3 separate regions of the Homo sapiens genome follow, and regions 1 and 3 are each reported to be linked to region 2. The links are microRNA targets in miRTarBase. Many come from high-throughput screens and were not tested one by one. Region 2 holds a microRNA gene; each other region holds the end of a gene's coding sequence.

Region 1 (5,929 bases), not on the chromosome of region 2:
GAGTTGGTAAGGATTAGTCACCAGAAGGACAACTAGGGTGACAGTATAATTTATATCCAGGTAAGCATACCTTTTGAGATAGAAATGTGATACTAGTAATAATTTCAGGACAACAGGTATTTTGTACACTAACACTGTCTCAGGCAGATGGGATTTATGGTTACCCTGTAGATAACTACTTTTTCTATAGTTCTGGACAAGTTGACAAAAGTCACACATTTGTAAGAGACTCTTCATGGTATAACACTTAGATTCTGAAGTGTTTTTAATGCTTCTGAAAATTAAATCATACGGTTCACTACAAAAAGAAATTTGTTTTTCCTTTTCTTAGGAGGAATTTCAGCAATATGCAGCAGCCCTTCAAGCTGGAATGGAAATTGGCTGGTTGAAACCTGTGATAGGTTCTCAATATCCATTGGAGAAGGTGGCCGAGGCTCATGAAAATATCATTCATGGTAGTGGGGCTACTGGAAAAATGATTCTTCTCTTATGATGATTAATTCTTTCATGGATTTCCTATGTAATTAGAGGTACTGTCTTTCCCCCAGTTGTACTTACCCTATCTTTTCTTTAATTAACATTCGATTCCATGAGCTTCTTATGTGAAAAAATAAGATTTTTCTTTAGAGAGCAGAAGCAGAAGAGTAAAATTTATTGTATAGCTAGCAATATTTTTTTATGCCATCTGTCTCAAATCAAAGAGTCATCATAGTAGGAAATAACATGTTAGTTGTCATTTGGCATGAGTGTGCATTCCAGTAATTCTTAATTGATATTTGATTAATTCCATACCTTTGATTAAAACATGCTAGTTCAAAATAAGACTGCTCAGTTTCCAAGGGTTTTCAAGCCTACTTACCTTTATAAAGGTTCTCTAGTCTCTGATTAGCCATGACTGTATTGGACTTTGAACATTTTCTGAACTAAAAACCTCTATTCTAAACTAATCTCATTTGGATGTGTAAGTCTTTTGTAAAGGCAAGAATAAATAATATCCAGGACAATTTATTAGTTTTCTCAGTATTTTCCCAAATATTAGAATATTTACTTCATTATTGGTTGGCTGCCAATGACCCCATATGTTCTGTGAGAATAGTAGCTTTATCTTTGATATAATACATAGTCTCCAAATAGGTAATACTTCGCAATTGATTAGATTTTCAGAGTAGATTTAGAGTTATCTGTTTTTCTGGTGAGGGTCAAATATTTTTGTTAATTAAGCTCACAAATTTGATAAATTAAGAATTATCTGCATTTGTCTCGTAACATAATAATGTGTAATAAAGTCTATAGAAAATTAAAACCTGCTTTTCTAGTTTTTATATTATTTGCCTCTCATCACTTCTGCATAGCTCCTGACAGTTACTTCTTAACAGTGTTCTATGCTGGAAGCCTTTATCTAAACTAAATACAGGGATGACCTCTTAGCAATCTTGCCATCAATATTATATTCAAGAAAATAAAAGTTCGGTTATTTGTTGTTTTTGTTTTTCTTCACATAAGCACATACTTTTGTCTTGCTACATTATGTGATTGATTGTTTTGACCTGATTTTTTCTGTTGAATGACAATTTCTGGCTTGAATATGGAATCCTGCTTCAGGAATAAACAGAAAACACCGCTAATTTCTATAGTTGAAGGATATCATTGGCTTCTGGTTGTATGTGCCATGGCTGAAGTGTTTTTTGCTATTAGCATTTTCAAGTTTATCCACTGTTTCTTTTACAGGTTAACTACCCTGTAAAATTACTTAAAAAAAAAGTGTTAAGGCAATGTCATCAACATAGGCTGGCATTTTATGTGCATCCTAAAATGGAGGATTCCTTTCCATGTAAACAAGGTAAAAGAATAATTATTCTGTAAAAGTCAGTTTAATCTGTTTGTATATTTGCCTCATCTATAGAAGGAGCTAAAGCATACAGATGACTTAACACTTCAAAATACATTGATACAGTTTAATTAATTTTGAAGCCAAAACTAGCCAAACTGTGTGCATTAACTACCATATTTATGATGTAGCACTGGGTATGTTCTCTGCATAAATCTCTGTGGTTTTAGTCTTGTCCCAACTTTCAGCCAACTGCATTCACTACTTGGTTGGTGCCTGTGGCCTTAGGGCTACTACATAGTCTTCAGTGCCCATTCTTGATGAAAAGTAGAGAATAACCTGTATAATAAACAAACATTGTTTAACTCAGTCTTTTGGATTTCTGTTCCTGGTTGCTTTGACTTGTGTGACCTAGTCATGTAATGTATTAGAGACCAAATTGGTCAGCACCCTGAGCCCAAAAAGGTGAATCAACATACCAAAGGTCACATGACTAGGAGATTCAAATTCAGCTGACTTTTTTGTGGGCTGTCGATATAAAACCATAAATTTAACTTTCCAGGCCTCTGGCTTTCCTTGCTCACTGTACCTCTGGCTTCTCTAACAGATTATTCTGTGCATCCATTAGTTCAACAAGTATTTATTGAGTACCTAGAGTCTGAGAAAGCACCCTGTTGGATTTTGAAAATACAGAGATATATAAGACAGAGTGCATATCCTTGAGCTTACAGTTGAGTAAGGATGAGACCCAAGTAAAACATTTTAGAATATAAGGGAGTGTCATACAGGGTTCTCCAGACAAACAAGCAATAAAATATATTAAGAGATGCATTTGAAAGAATTTGCTCATGCAATTATGGGGACTGGCAAGTTAAAATCTGTAGGGCAGGCCAGCAGGCTAGAAATACAACTAGTTTCTATTGTTGCAGTCTTGCAGAATTCTTTCTCTGTGAAACCTTAGTTTTTGTTCTTAAGGCTTTCAACTGATTGGATGAGGCCCACCTGCATTATTGAGGGACATCTCCTTAAAGTCAACTGATAATTTTGTATAAACATGTAAGTGGCACATGTTGACTATGTTGACACAAAACTAACCATCACAAGGGTGACAGACACAGAGGAAGGGCACTTAGTGTAGCTTGGGATTTGCAGTCACACATTTCATACATTTGATGCATTTGTTAGCTGTCTCCATCCATAGTAGCTTTAACCATAGAGGTAAAAAATAGGATGCTTCTGAAAGGGGGAAAAAAAAAACTAGCATTTTTTTAATGTCCGTAACTCGCCTGTTGAGACAAGAAATTGTATGTGTGCCAAGGGGCTTCCCCAATTTGTGGTATAAAGAGCTTTCTTTTTCTGCACGATTTCCAAGAACAGCAAAACCTGTCAGGTCACTTTGACCTACCTCTTTGCGCCTCCTTGACCGTATCTCGCAAACAGAAAAACACCTCAGCTCAATGCTCAATCATTTCTAATGCTTTCATTTTTTTAGTACAGTGCTTTAAAAAGTCATTTAAAAATTGTCATATGACAATTTTGCTAATCCATAGGGCTTATACTGTGGGAACTTCCTACATCCCAGGACAAGGCCTAGGAAATGTTATAGAAAGAAACGTAAGTTCACTTTGGTCTATGTCGACCCCTAAGTCATACATGGAGACACTCCATGTGTGTCGTTAAAAGTGAGTCTAATACTGATCCCAAAATTATGTGATATGGATGTTCATTAAATGTGCTAAATATAACTACAGATCGCAGTCCCTGATTTATTCATTCCCAACTTCATGTAAAAATACCCACAAAACTCCAGTAGTACAAGACAGTGAAGAGAAAACCATGTGACAAAATCCACTGGGAATTTCTAACATAAGTGTCAATCATTTGATTCGTTGAACCAAATTATCTACAGAGTAGGCAGGAAAAAGCCACAACTCAATCACTGCCTCTAACTTGGGACACAGGAGGTACACTGCCTGGAAAACCAAGTCCCCCGCCGCACACACACACACACACACACACACACACACACACTTTTTTTTTTTTTTTAACCAGAAATCATCTGAACTAGCTAGAATTGAGGTCTAGGTCCACCCCACAGTATCCTTCAGCTCCTTGCTTTCACATGCATTTTAGAGACTACAGGTTTCAGTTTTCAGTACAGCTATAGATTAAGGAGGAAGTGGAACTTTGCACCCTCAGATGTCACCACAGAGAAAATCTTGCAAATGGATTGAGAGTGGAATTGCTGGAGAAATACAAGACTTGTGCAAACAACATTTGTCTGACTCTAGCAAAGCCAGATAATGTAAAAATTGGAGCAGAAGATGCCCGTACCTTAGTCCAGCAGGCACTGGAATTGACGCAAAATATTGAAGAGGCTATCTCACTCCAGATATTGATCTGGAAGAAACTGACCTCTCTTATGGGCAGGGAGGAAGGCCACAAGTACATCTCTGGTATAGTTGTCAAGAGCATGGGTTCTGAAGGCAAAGAAACTGGATTTAAAGCCTAGCACTGTTATTGACAAGCTATGGAATCCTAGGCAAATTAATTATTTGGAGCTTAGGGAGCTCAGAATTGTAAGAATTAAATGAGATAATGGTTGTGTAGTACTTAGCACTCTGTCTTGCACAAACACGTGTTTAAATGATTAATAATCTTTTATTTTCATTAGCCAAAAAAGAGTAAATTGAGACAGAGGAGGAATGAAGAGAGAGCATCCTGAAATATGCAAAAAGGAATCCCAAATGCAAATCCCCAGAGGAGGTGCAAATGAGCATGACTGACATTACAGAAAACTTGGTCACGTGAACAAATTTCATAACTCTCCAAAAGTATAGAGAAAAAGATGAAGAAAATAATATGATAGAACAAACAAAAAGCAAAAACAACCTTTAAATTATAGGCATGCCCCCTAACTTTCACAGAATAATGAAAGAAGTAATAATTAAAGAAAATTCCTGGCCTAAACCAAAGAGCTAAGTTTATTCACTGATAATATTAATTATGTCTGTGTAAAATTAATGAAGACCTGGTAATAAGATACATCTTTTAAATGTTTAAATTTCACATAGATTTGGAAGGGAGCATGCTGAAGGATCATTATTTACAATTATGTTATTCAAAACCTAGAATATGCAGGAGAACAAACAGAAAAACTATTGATGAGTTAAGAAAACTGGTTAATTATATAATATATAGAAATTAATATGAATCAGTAATGATTCATATTAGAAAATTATAAAATAATGAAAAAAGATCTCTTTCACAATTGCAATGCCACTACTACCACTAATTTTAAAAGCGGTGAGAAATAACTTATGTGTGTAATTGGATTGTTTGTAATTCAAGGATAAATGCTTGAGGGGATGGATACCCCATTCTCCATGATGTGCTTATTTCACATTGCATGCCTGTATCGAGACATCTCATGTACCCCATAAATACGTACATCTGCTATGTGCCCACAAAAATTTTTAAGAAAAAACAATTTTTAAGTAGTAAAATACAAGCTACCAAATTTACAAGAACACACAGGACCTTTAAAAAGAAAACTACAAAACTCTCATGGAGGACATAAAGGATTACTCAAAGAAATGATTCTTGGTCAGATTCATGTAAAGATTCTCCCTTCATATGCTAGAAATTCAAAGTTATTTATGTCAAAATAATAGGAATTTTTAGAAACTTGACAACATATTTCTAAAGGTGTTTGTTTTTTTTGGTGGGGGAGGGGGAGGGAGGGGGAGAAAAAGGAAGCCAGAAAAATTAAGAAAAGAAAATGAGCTGGAACCAGTCCCAGCAGATGTGAACATTTTTTCCCAAGTTAGAGTTACTAAGGTGGACTCGTATTAGCTCAATGATAACTAGATTAGTGGAACAAATCTAGTTGAGTCCAGGTATGCTGCTTCCCTTTGCGGATGGTAAAAATGGCTTTTGAGTGGGGTGAGAGGTTATTCAATAAGAGAACTGGCTCCCCATTTGGGAAAAAAAATAAAGCTAATATTTGACTTCACTTCTAACATCAAAAACTTTTAGATGAGCCGGGTGCAAGTGGCTCACATCTGTAATTGCAGCACTTTGTGAGACTGAGGCGGGCGG
Region 2 (6,145 bases):
GCATATGCAATTAAGGACAAGTCCTGAGCAGGGCTGCTGCAGCCACATCCCACAGCAGGGCCTGGGGAGTCAGCTGCACCTAGAGCTGAGGGCCCGGGGCAGACACGGATGTGTCAGTTCACTAGCCTGGGTACCCTAGCCAGGCCCCTCAGGGAGGGATGCCAGCCCCTTGGAAGAGACAGTGTGTGGGCTGACCTTTCTCCCAACACAGGGGAAGAAGAGTTCCTTGGCTGGTTACTACACCTACCCCAGCTCTTCCAGGCTGCCGCTGTTTCAGTTACCAAAAGAAGACCCCTAAGCCCAGCCAGCAGCTATTCCTCAATCACATGTCCCCCTCCTTCAGGACCATCCTGGCAAGACCCACTCCTTGGGACACGAATGATGTCTGGCCACACAGAATACATGTTTATGACTCAGACCGTCCAATTCCCTAACCAGCTATGTCCCACTGGTTCTCAACAGGGCCTCGTGGAGGCAGCCCCGACCTGGGGGAAGTGGCCTTGCTCTGGCTGGTATGTGCAGAATGCTTGTCCATGTAGACGTGCTTTATTTATGCCAAATCGTGCTTGGGGGCTTCGGGGGATCAGACTTGCTTCCTCAACAAGCTGTGACTGCAGGGGAGGGACTGGCTAATAGCAGACAATGGGTGTTATCTGGTCCACTCACTGATCCATTCGCCAGTAGGAGGAATGTCTAACTCTGCATGTGTGAGAAGTAGTGGTTTTCAAGTACAAGACTTTTTTGAACCAGTTCCAGCTTTAGAGAAGTGAGATTGGTGTAGGTTGTCCGTGTGTGGAATGTGAATGGAGGGTGGGACATGGAGCATACGCTTTGCTTGTGGAAAATGTCTCCTGGTCCTCAGAACTGAAGCCGTTTTAGCGGCACTTCCTGGAGTGATGGCACCCTTGCGAGATAGGGTTTGAGTCTGGGATTATTGGTCCTTCATTTTTTGCTATGGGAGGCATGTGTTGTCGCTATTTTAGTAAGCCTCTGCATCCACTCCACCCCAAAAATGATTTTTCTGGAAGCTGTGATCATTGTTTTTGGAGGGTGGTATTAGTGGTGGTGGTGGTGGTGGTGGTGGTGGTGGTGATGGTGGTGGTGGTGATGGTGGTGATGGTGGTATTGGTGGTGGTGGTGGTGGTGGTGGTACTGATGGTGGTGGTGGTGGTGGTGGTGGTGGTGGTGGTGGTGGTGGTGGTACTGATGGTGGTGGTGGTGGTGGTGTTGGTGGTGGTGGTGTTGGTGGTGTTGGTGGTGGTGGTTGTGATGGTGGTGGTACTGGTGGTGTTGGTGGTGGTGGTGTTGGTGGTGGTGGTGTTGGTGGTGGTGGTTGTGATGGTGGTGGTGGTGGTGGTATTGGTGGTATTGGTGGTGGTGGTGGTGGTGGTGGTACTGATGGTGGTGGTGGTGTTGGTGGTGGTGGTGTTGGTGGTGGTGGTGGTGGTGGTGGTGGTACTGGTGGTGGTGGTGGTGGTGGTGTTGGTGGTGGTGGTGTTGGTGGTGTTGGTGGTGGTGGTGGTGGTGGTGGTGGAGGGTGGTGGTGGTAGGGGCTGGTGAGCATCATGTTTTGCTACCTCTCTCAGTTGTATTTAAAGAGACATTGTTTTTGACCTGTTTGCCTATTCCTCAGTCTGTCACACCAACATGACCAGTCCTGCCGATTGAAACTTTCTGGACACAAGCTTCAGTCTCTGGAAGATTCTTGGGTGTCCTTCTCCCTCCAAGGTATGTGAAGGATGCTCCAGCCCACAGTTACATGACATTGGTCATTAGGTGCCTTGGGAGGGCTTCATGGAGGCGATGTGACTTTAGGAACCTGACAGGCTTATTTTCTTTTTGTTTTTGATATTTTTCGAATTCAAAGCATAGAATCCCTACTTTGCCTGCTTTACTTGTGGCAAATTTTTGATGTACATTCACTTTTTTTTTTTTTTTTTTTCAGAATTAAATGCTACTTTGGAAACGCTCTTGACCATGAAGCCTCCATTAGGGAAGAGACATTAGGGTTACCCCCACCCAGACGAGTGACAGCAGGGCAGACCCCAAACTTACGTTTGCCTGCATAGGAGTTCCATCTCTGGATGTGAAGAGGCCAGGGGTGGGCCCTGCGCTTCCCACGTGGGACTCGCAAAGTGCTCACCTGCTTCTGTTACCTTCTGTCTTTCATGAATCATGTTTGCGTTTGTGCTCTCCAGGGCTGTTCCCACTTTTCCCATCTAAAAGGTGGATGTTCCTTCTATGCTTACAGGATTTATGGTGAATCATAGAGGAAAATCCGCATTTTCAGTATCTAAGGCTGCTTTTAAAACATTTCTGAACATTTCTGAGAGGAAGGTTAGCTCCCTCCCCCATGCGGAGAGTGATGGAAGGTGAATCCCAGAACCTAAGCTCTTGTTAGCAAGGTCTGTCCTGGGACATGCGTCCTCCGCAGGGCCCATGTCACTGCCGCTAGCCCGGGAGGCCCCTGCCGACTGCACCTATCCTGTGCTGTCTTTAATTTTGATAGATTGTGCTTAGGTTCATGCTTTCCAGGACTCAATCCTTCTTTGGTATTTAAAAGGTGGATATTCCTTCTATGTTTATGTTATTTATGGTTAAACATAGAGGAAATTCCACGTTTTCAGTATCAAATGCTGCTTGGAAACATTCCTGGACTGAAACCACCATCAGGGAAGAGACAATAAAGTCCCCCCCCCCACTCCAGGGTAAGTGGAAAGTCGGTGGACCTCAGAACATGTGCTGAATTCGTGCCATATGTCTGCGGACCACCCACCCGCCTTGAGGAGACCCCTCTCGCAAGCTGCCCGCTCGGCCAAGCGGCTGGGCTCCGTCGTCATTTTCTCCATGAGGCCGAATGCTCTCCTCTGTGCTATGTTACTTTTGTGTTTGATGGATTGTACTTAGGTTCGTGCTTTCCGGGATGAAACCTTCTTTGGTATTTAAAAGGTAGATTTTCCTTCTATGGTTACGTGTTTGATGGTTAATCATAGAGGAAAATCCACGTTTTCAGTATCAAATGCTGCCTTGGGATCATGGCTGGACTGAAGCCACCATCAGGGACGTGAGGTGGGGCTGAGCCCTCCAGGGTAAGTGGAAAGATGGTGGGCCGCAGAACATGTGCTGAGTTCGTGCCATATGTCTGCTGACCATCACCTTTAGAAGCCCCCTTTCGCTGAGGAGCCAGCTTGGTGCACAGGCTGTGGTGTGTTGTCACAGCTATGCTACGGGACTGAAAACGGTTGCTTTACTGTCTTGCTTCCATTTTCCATGAACTGTGTTCAGATTTGTCCTTTCCAGAGCCCAGTCCTTCTTTGGTATTTAAAACGTGGATATTCCTTCTATGTTTACGTGATTCCTGGTTAATCATAGAGGAAAATCCATGTTTTCAGTATCAAATGCTGCTTTGGAAATGTTTCTGGAAGAGACCGTAGGGCCTGAGTAGGTGCAAAGATGGTAGGCCGCACGTCGTATCTGAATGAACGGGGTATGCCCGAGAACCATCTCGAGACGCCAACTTGGTGAAGATTAAATTGTGGGTCTCGTGGTGCCAGTTCTTCCCTGGAAGCTCGTCTGCCTCATGTGACTTTCTTTTCTGATGACTCAAGCACAGGTGCACGCTTTCCTGGATGGAATCCTTCTTTGGTATTTAAAAGGTAGATTCTCCTTCTATGAGTACATTATTTATGATTAATCATAGAGGAAAATCCACGTTTTCAGTATCAAATGCTGCTTTGAAAACCTCGGAGGACGTGAAGTCGCCATGGAAGAGGAGATGTTATCTGTACCCCTCCTGGGTACAGGACGGACAGACACAGAATTGTACTTTGTATGAAATACGCCGTCAGCTTCTCTGCTGTTTGCTCACTGCCCTTGGTGCACACATAATGTGTTGTTACAAGGCTGTGTTCTCAGTATTGCCTCATTGACCTTGAATGAAGTTTGTTCTCTGTATGTTTACCATGATTGCAATGCATTTTCTGGAATGAACCTCTTTTACTGTGACTAGTTGTACCTTAGAGAATACCTGAGTGGGCTGTCAATTTCAGGAAGGGGCACTGCTTCAGGGGCTATGGAAGGAATAGATGTGTGATTCACCCACGGGCCTGCACTTCACACCTCGGTGTGCTGCTCTCACCATGCAGATCCCATCTGTGTCTCTAAGGCTTGCTCCTGGAGCTGGTGGCAACTTAGTCACAGAGGAAATGGCCTTCCTGTCACTGCCATCATTTGCTACTTGAAGAGAGGTAATCCTTCACGCATTTGCTTTACTTGCAATGATTATACAAGGGCAGACTCTCTCTGGGGAGCAAATCCTGCCTGGGAAGCCTTCTTGGGAACAAGGCTGACTCCAGCAACCTGTTAGATGGCCAGGATAGCCCTGGGGTGTGGATGGTTGACCACAGGGCATGTGCCTCTGTCTTGCTGTTTGTGACCTGGTTCTCTGACCCTCCTCATCTCATGCTTCCTTCCAAGAACTTTCTGGAAGAGATGCTGGCTTTGGAGATGATATAGGGTTTTCTCTTCAGACCACCTGTTCTGCCTAGCAAAAAGGGCCTACCTTGGCCGGGCACGGTGGCTCACGCTTGTAACCCCAGCCCTTTGGGAGGCTGAGACGGTGGATGGCTTAAGCCCAGGAGTTCGAAACTAGCGTGGGCAACTTGGCGAAACCCCATCTCTGCAAAAAATACAAAAATTAGCTGGGTGTCATGGTGTGCGCCTGTGGTCCCAGTACTTAGGAGGTTGAGGCTGGAGGATCACTTGAGCCCGGGAGTTGGGAGGTTGTAGTGAGCCAAGATTGTGCCACTGCACTTCAGCCTGGCTGACAGAGACCCCTGTCTCAACACAATAGGTTAAAAAAAAAAGAAAAGAACAAAGGGCCTCCCTTGATGGGCCCTACTTATCACAAAGCATCCATGGGCTGCTACTCCGGCAGGTCTGCCCAGCATGATGCCAGCCTCTGAGAAGAGGTCTCGTGGTCAGTGCATCTCCCAGATACATGAAAGAATGACCGTCAGCAAAGTCAATGTCTAATGTAGATGTGGGTCATCTGGTCTACCCACTCTCCATACCTAGCCCATCCTTGGAGTGACTTTTGGACCTCACTGTCCACTTGAGGGAAGGCCAGTCCACAGGAAGGAGGCCCCAGAGCACCCAGTGTGGCTACAGGACTTGCTGCTGGGACCTCTAAGCCCCACTGCTCTCTTAGTCCATTGGTGTCCTTTAGGGATTCTTGCCAATGGAAAGACCCTTGGATTCCTGGTGTTAGCATGTGTTTATTCAGAGAGAGTTGGCCCATGAGAATCTCATTTTCCTTTGACGAATCTTGCCCTAGATGAATACTTCTGAGTAACAACTAACTGCTCAGATGGCTTTCTGAATACAATGCCAAATTCAGGAGAAGGGACACTTGTCATAGTGCTGCTTTGTGATTTGCAAACGGAGTGCGTTGGATTTCTGTTTCTCTTTTTTCTTTAATGATGCATGTGACTGCATCTTCTAACCTCCCTTAGCCAGTGTTCACCAGGAGGGCTTCCTGGAGGCAGTGGCTTTGGGCAGAGGCAGAGGTTCTTCTCCCAGGGTGTTTTTGCAGGCCCTAAAGGGATTTCAGCCATTTTACATTTACATTATTTCAAATGGTACAGGATTGCCTGTCTTTTGGTAACCAATCCTGTCGTGAAGAGATGCTGGGAAGTAAAGTCAACTGTATGGCAGGCCCCAGCTCCAGGGCCAGCCAGATGAGGCTTGTCACCTGGCCCCTCCCCCTTGGTCTCAGGCCTCGCAGGAGGAGATGTCCACTCCGGCGAAGACCCGGCATAGTCCTCACCTGCTCTTTGAGCCACTCTTTGGTACTTGAAGAGAGGATACCCTTTGTATGTTCACTTGATTAATGGCGAATATACAGGGGGAGACTCTTATTTGCGTATCAAACTCTGTCGAGGAAGACGCTCAGACCCTGCTGTCTCCAGGACAAAGCCTCGGATGTCAGCCCCTCTCAGGTACGGCTTGGCTTCCCTGTCTGGGAACGTGAGCTTGGCTGTGATCCTAGCCCTTGGGTTCTGCCTTCGCTCTCTGTGCTGGTTCTTCCTGTGGACTCCCTGGAGGCAGTGGGAGAGGAGGGTCCTTTTTGTGTGCACTGAGTTTA
Region 3 (6,067 bases), not on the chromosome of region 2:
GAGGCCAAGTGAGGCGATCACTTGAGGCCAGGAGTTCGAGACCAGCCTGGCCAACATTGTGAAAAATACTCTACTAAAAATACAAAAGTTAACCGCGCATGCTGGCGTGCTCCTGTAATCCCAGCTACTCAGGTGGCTGAGGTAGGAGGACTGCTTGAACCCTGGAGGTGGAGGTTACAGTGAGCCAAGATTGTGCCACTGCACTCCAGCCTGGACGAGGGAGCGAGAGTCTGTCTCAAAAATAAATAAATAAAAAAAATATTTAAAAAAAAAAAAAGAAAGAAAAAGGCCCTGGAAATGGAAAGTCAGCCATGGTCCAAAAGCTCTCTCAATTCTTCTTTGGGTCTAGTCTCTACACTCCAAAGAGCTTTGATTCTCTGTTTCTGAGAGGCAGGGACATATGAGCAAACCTTTTTTGAGGTTACCCAACCATTGTCCTATGTGCTGTTACCTCCACACCCTGGCTAGGGAGAAGCGGAAGGAGGAAGATTTTTGGAGTAGACATCCAAAGTCAATAGGTGGAGTGTCAGGTGACTGGGCCCAGCCCCTCTCATAAGCCACTGGGGTCCTGCTGAAGACTTGCTGTTTCCTTGTTCCTGGTCTGAGCCTGGCTCTCGGCCCAAGGCTTGCCTGACAGGCAGCGATTGGAAAAATAGCCCCTGTAATCCCCTGCAGCCTGTGTTCATCTGAGCCTCAATGTTCCCATCTCTAGAATGGGAGTATGTTTCTTTTTGGTGATGTATATTGTAATTAATTTGTAGTTGTCTGTACTCCACTGGCAGAGGTAGGGAAGGAAAGTGCTGGCCCCATAAAATGTTTAGATTAGTTGCATTTGCTAATCAGTCTGATCTTCCCATGCCAGGCCCTAAAGAAGCCACAGTCTGAATTCTTTTTCTTGAACTCTTGTCTGAAATGAAACACAGTATCTTCAGACAAATTAGAGCATTCTGAAAACACCTTTGGACACAGTAGTCCTAGCTTTCTTCCTCTTCTCTAAAGTACTCAAGGTTAGGAAGCCAGAAGTTTGCCACTCAGGGAAAGAAGTAGCCTTTGTTTGACCCTCTATGCTCACAGCAGAACTGGTAGATCTGGATAGAGGTAGCAAGTAAGTGAGCAGTGGGAACAAGGCCAGAGGTGGCAGAGGCAGAACATAGAAGAGTTCAGATCCTACTCAGTAAATGTGTGTCTTTTTGTTGTTGTTGTTTGTAGAGATGAGGTCTCACTATGTTGCCCAGGCTGGTCTCAAGCGCCTGGCATCAAGTGATCCTCCTGCCTCACGCTCCCACAGTGCTGGGTTTACAGGCATGAGCCACGGTGCCTGGCTTCAATCAATGTCTTTGATGCAATGCATCCAGGAGGCAAACAGTGGTCTGCAGGCCAGGGGCATTGGCACTGGTGATCACCACATGCCTGTAGAGGTGCAGCATGGGGTTCTCTCCTAAGGCTGCCGCTTCTCTGCTGCCCACATGGGTTTCAGCTGGCCCCTTAGAGAGTAGGCAGTAGGATGACAGCTCATCATACTGCTGACAGTGAAGGGAGCAGGCTGGCCCGGGAAGGCCAGCACCTGTAAACCAAGCTGTGTCACTGTATGAAAAATGAAGAGCTTGGTGGTGCTGGACCCTGAATGCAGGGTTTGTTTCTTTCTGAGTAGAATCTCCATTCTCCATTCCACATTAGTCATGCTTTCAGCTCTGGGATATCTGTACCAGGTGAGCACAATCAAATAACCTGTGTCTACTTGGCTGCAGTGCGTTATGGGTCTCTCTGTGGAGGTATCTTCCCCTAGGGCCTGACTGAGGCTGTTATTAAACTGATTTTTTATGTCTCAGACCACAGTGGGCTATTGGAGGAGAGGAAGAAACCTCCAACGTATTAGCAGAGAGCTCTCAAAAGTTGGCTTAGAGTCATGCATTTGCCCCGAGTAAGCTGAGACAGATGGACATCCCCACAAATAAAGATCTGAGCTCCTTTTATACATATGTCAGCAAGGACCTCAGGGCTGGTGCCTGAATTTTTAGCTCTAGTTCCGGCTCTCTGAACTTTTTTTTTTAATGCCTCATTAGGCCAGGGTTGTAATAAACTAGTTAGGTGACTAAAGAGAACCAATTCCTGGAAATGATTATGAAACCTTCCATGCACGAGCCTAAGAAAAAGAGAGAGAGAAAGACAGAGAGAGGGAGAGAGAGAGAGAGAGAGAGAGAAAGAAAGAAAGAAGCAAACCTTTAGAGCTTTACACAGGAAGGGACCTGACCAGATACTCAGACTATACATCCAAGCAAGGGGGAAGGCAGGGGACACAAAGATCGAGAATGCAGCTGTGGAGGTGAGGTGCTTTGCATGAAGTCCCAGTGTGCCCTTTCCTGAGTAGTGTAACTTAACTTCTCTGGTCCTCAGATTTCCCATCTATGAAATGGGAATGATCACACCTACCTTACAGAAATGTTACCGTAACTGTGATACACAATGTGAAAACACCTAGGATAGTGCCTGCTGTGCAGAAACACGTTAACAAGCAGTAGCAGCGTTAGTAAGTAACAGTGTAAAGTGAACTGCAGAAATGCACCCGAACCTGAGAATCTGCTTGATCTTGTGAAAATCAATGGTCTCCCTGCATCCTCGATTAGATTCTAATCCTAAGTTAGAAATCCCCAGGGAGGCTTCCCTGATTCTGGCCTAGGGATAGATGTTTGCCTGCCCCTCATCTCAGTGGTATAGGCATCATGCTAGCCGGAGGTATAAGATGAAAAACAACAGCACTGACAATACCAAGTGGTGGAGGTGGCCTCCTCTGCCAGTTTGGCCTCTGGCCCTTTAAATCAACCCTCCTGACTACTCCATGGATCAGTTAGCCCATAAAGGAGAGCTGTGAACACTTGGGGCTTCCCCGCTTCTCTCCCTGAAAGTTCTTACTCAGATCTTATCTCTGCCCCCTCCAAACTCTTGGCCCTGGGACTCTAATCTGGCCCTGCCCTGGCCTTTTGAACTCTTACCAGCTCCACCTCTGGTGGAGCTTAACTTTCCCTATAACGGCCTCCCTGCTAGAAACGCTCCTGGCTCTAGCCACGTGGCCAACACTCTTGCTGGGCTGGTTGTCTCCTCCCTCCCCTTCTTCCCCCAAGATGGGGTAGTCAGACAGAACATTCTAGCTGCTGAATTCCACAATGAAAGTATTAGAGCCGTTTGGAGGAAGGAGAGGTCCTGGAGAAAGGTGGTCAGGGAAGCCCTTGAGGAAGAATAGGATCTGATCTCCAGATCCGAGTGGGAACAAAAGAGTCCTGTACAATTTCATGGCTTAGTCCAGGGACTGGCAGATTCTGGCTCAAGGGCCAAATCCAGCCTCCCTCCTGTTTTGGGAAATAAAGTTTTGTTGGAACACAGCTGCGGTCATTTGTTTCTCGATTGCCTGGCTGCTTTTGTGCTGCAACGGCAGAACTGAGTAGTTGCCATAGAGACTGTATGGCCTGCAAAGCCTAAAATGTTTACCATGTGGCCCTTTACTGAAGAGTTGGCCAACCCCGGGTTTAGTGCATCAGGCTTCCCCAAACAGTGATGTGAGGAACTCCAGCCCCTTGGGACTGCTTCAATCAAACACAATAATCCAACACATCTGGGAAACACACATTATGTCCCCATCCCGAGGTGTGAAAACCCAGGGTGTTTCACAATACACCTCCATATAGCAAAGGCTCCAAAAGATCCTGCATAGAAGAATGTTTGTGGTTTCCCAGCATTTCCAAAACTTCATTAATCTACCAAACCTCCTTTTCCTCAGAACACCTTTTCACATCCTGAGAATCTAGCATTAGAAACAGTCTGGGTGCTGGGCCCATCCCTGCCACAAATGAGAACCAATTCCTGGGAATGATCATGAAACCTTCCATGCACAAGCCTAAGAGAGAGAGAGAGAAAGAAGTGAGCCTTTAGAGCTTTACACAGGAAAGGACCTGACCAGATACCTAGATCATAAATCCAAGCAAGGGGCACGGCGATCCAGAACATAGCTGTGGAGGTGGGCTGCTCCGAGTGGCCTTTGCTGAAGTACACACCTTGCAGAGCCTGCTCCCTCATTGGTTGAATAGGATCCATGATGTCTGTCCTATCTCCGTTACAGGATTATTTGGGGCAGGTCATTGAGAAAGCGAACAGGAAAATAGTCTCGAGGGACGACTGTGGTATCCTTGATTTTTGACAGTGAGTTTTGCTTTGGTACAATGCTCAGCAATGGTGAAGTGAAAAAGGCCCTGAACCAAGGTCACGAGTTCTCTTTGCTAGTCCTCACAGTGCTATAACTAACTGGGTTAACTGGGTGACTTTAAACAAGCGCCCCCCACCTGTACCCTTAACCCTGTTGGGCCTCAAGTCCCTCTCTTCTAGAATGAGGATATTAGACTAATCTCTAAAGATCTGTTAGCTCTGAAATTCTGCGATTCCATGTGGTTAGATGTGTGCAATTTTCCTACTTATCCAAAACAACAGGTTTCTCTTATAAGCCATAAAACCGGCATCTCCTTGATTTTCTTTGTACAGTGTCTGTGTTCAGAACCAGATATAAGGGGGTATTACTGAAGGATTTCTGTGCTGCTGACAGCTTAGAAGGCAGGACTAAGCCTTCTGGAAATGTCTACCTGGCAATTCTCAACTCGATATTGGTGCCTATTTTTCCTTTCTGCCTCCACCGCTCAGGCTGTTCCATCCAACAATGGAGCCCAGACAGTTTGCCAGCGGATCTGGCAAAAGAAAATAGTGGATGTGATTCCTGGAAAGGCAGTGGGGCCTAGGGTGGAGCGAAAGTTCCCTGACAAGCATGAGGTGATGTAGTTACAGGGCAGAATCCACATAAAATTCCTCTCTTTTGTCTCCCACCTCACCCCCAAAAACCATTTTCCAGCTTCACCAACAGTCCTCCATATCGAGGATTTATAAGCAGCTGAACAAGAGGGCCTTTATGAAGAAAGCAAGAATCTACTGAAAATACCCTGCTCCTCCATGAATGTAGGAAAATCCCAGAAAATCTTGGCCGGGTCAAAAGGTCTACGGCACAATAAGCCTGGGTCCAAATGGGGCGGGATGATGTGAGGAATGGGTGTTTGCCCTTTTGATCTCAGCGGAGAAACCAGCTGCCTGTGGGGTCATCTAGGGGACTCCCAAAAGGAGGGGCAGAAGCCCAGGGGGACCCAGAGTTCTTGCAGAGGAAGGGTGCCTAGAGGCCACTGAGCCCCCAAGTCAATCAGACACAGGTATTTATTGGGGTCCTACTGAGTTGGAAGTTCTCTGGGGGCATCATGAGACAGATAAAATGCAATTACTGCCTTAAAGGAGCTTAGAATCTACTTGAGAAGGCAAGGCTGGTACACTTAAATATAATACATGTGAATGGGAGGCTGAGTGCTAACAGTAGTCAGAAAAGGAGCCCCCAGCAAGGGCTGGGAGTGTTGATAGGGGATTTGTCACTTTCCACACTGATTGGAAGCCTCTTCTATTTTCAAACATTCAGGAATGGAAATTTCATGCTTTTCCTAGGTGACCTCTTCCAGTGTTTCATACACTGTTCTTGAAGTCTCCTTTGAGTCATCTTGTCACCTTTGGACGTGGATAATGCTTGACTTTCTTGGGCCCAAGGACAGCCAGCCTTTCTTCCATGGGTGGAGCACCGGCTGCATCAGCTTCTCTTCCCACAGGTGGAGGAAGGATGATGGAAAGAGGCTGGGGTCCTGAAGGCCTTTGATCTTGGTCCTTCTCCCATGGTAACTGAGCAGTTCATCTCTCTGTCCCTCAGGGTCCTGGATTTCTCTCTGGGGCAGTCAGGCTGGCCCCAGCAGGAAGAGAGTCATCCTGGAGCATCTTTCTTTCCACATGGGGCAGCTGGTCTGCTTGGGGGTTCACTTCCAGAAAATGTGTCATCTGAATTAAGGTGACCCTTTCTGCCTCCTGAGCTGCAGAGACACAGAGCAGACTGTGAGGGTTCTGGGTAAGGACAGCACTGACTTTGATTTCCTAAGAACCACTCCCAACCACTGCAAGTTTTCAAGAACTTTCTGACACAGAAGCAATGGAGCCCTAGTTGGCT

What was found. Region 2 holds the annotated microRNA hsa-miR-376c-5p (GGUGGAUAUUCCUUCUAUGUU, at 2,563-2,583, shown strand). A microRNA usually pairs through its seed, bases 2 to 8, with sites in the 3' UTR of a target mRNA and lowers its output. Matches are read on the target gene's strand: a 7mer-m8 pairs with bases 2 to 8, a 7mer-A1 pairs with bases 2 to 7 and ends in A, and an 8mer does both.
Region 1: miRTarBase lists CRYZ as a target of hsa-miR-376c-5p. The part of its 3' UTR that is shown has no 7-base or 8-base seed match.
Region 3: miRTarBase lists FCAMR as a target of hsa-miR-376c-5p. Seed matches in the 3' UTR shown: 7mer-m8 at 5,589-5,595.

The regions. Positions count from the first base shown.
Region 1 is chr1:74,700,860-74,706,788 of GRCh38, reverse strand. It overlaps CRYZ (crystallin zeta), which reads left to right. Exons shown (of 9, transcript NM_001889.4): 9 at 332-1,303. The coding sequence ends at 493. Among named protein-coding and RNA genes, the nearest start is that of CRYZ, 29 kb to the left of the region's middle.
Region 2 is chr14:101,037,132-101,043,276 of GRCh38, forward strand. It overlaps MIR376C (microRNA 376c), which reads left to right and starts at 2,559; the gene lies at 2,559-2,624. It overlaps MIR376A2 (microRNA 376a-2), which reads left to right and starts at 2,938; the gene lies at 2,938-3,017. It overlaps MIR654 (microRNA 654), which reads left to right and starts at 3,088; the gene lies at 3,088-3,168. MIR376B (microRNA 376b) reads left to right here and starts at 3,305; the gene lies at 3,305-3,404. It also overlaps MIR376A1, MIR300 and MIR1185-1.
Region 3 is chr1:206,952,744-206,958,810 of GRCh38, forward strand. It overlaps FCAMR (Fc alpha and mu receptor), which reads right to left. Exons shown (of 8, transcript NM_001170631.2): 8 at 5,224-5,933. The coding sequence ends at 5,773. Among named protein-coding and RNA genes, the nearest start is that of PIGR, 9.3 kb to the left of the region's middle.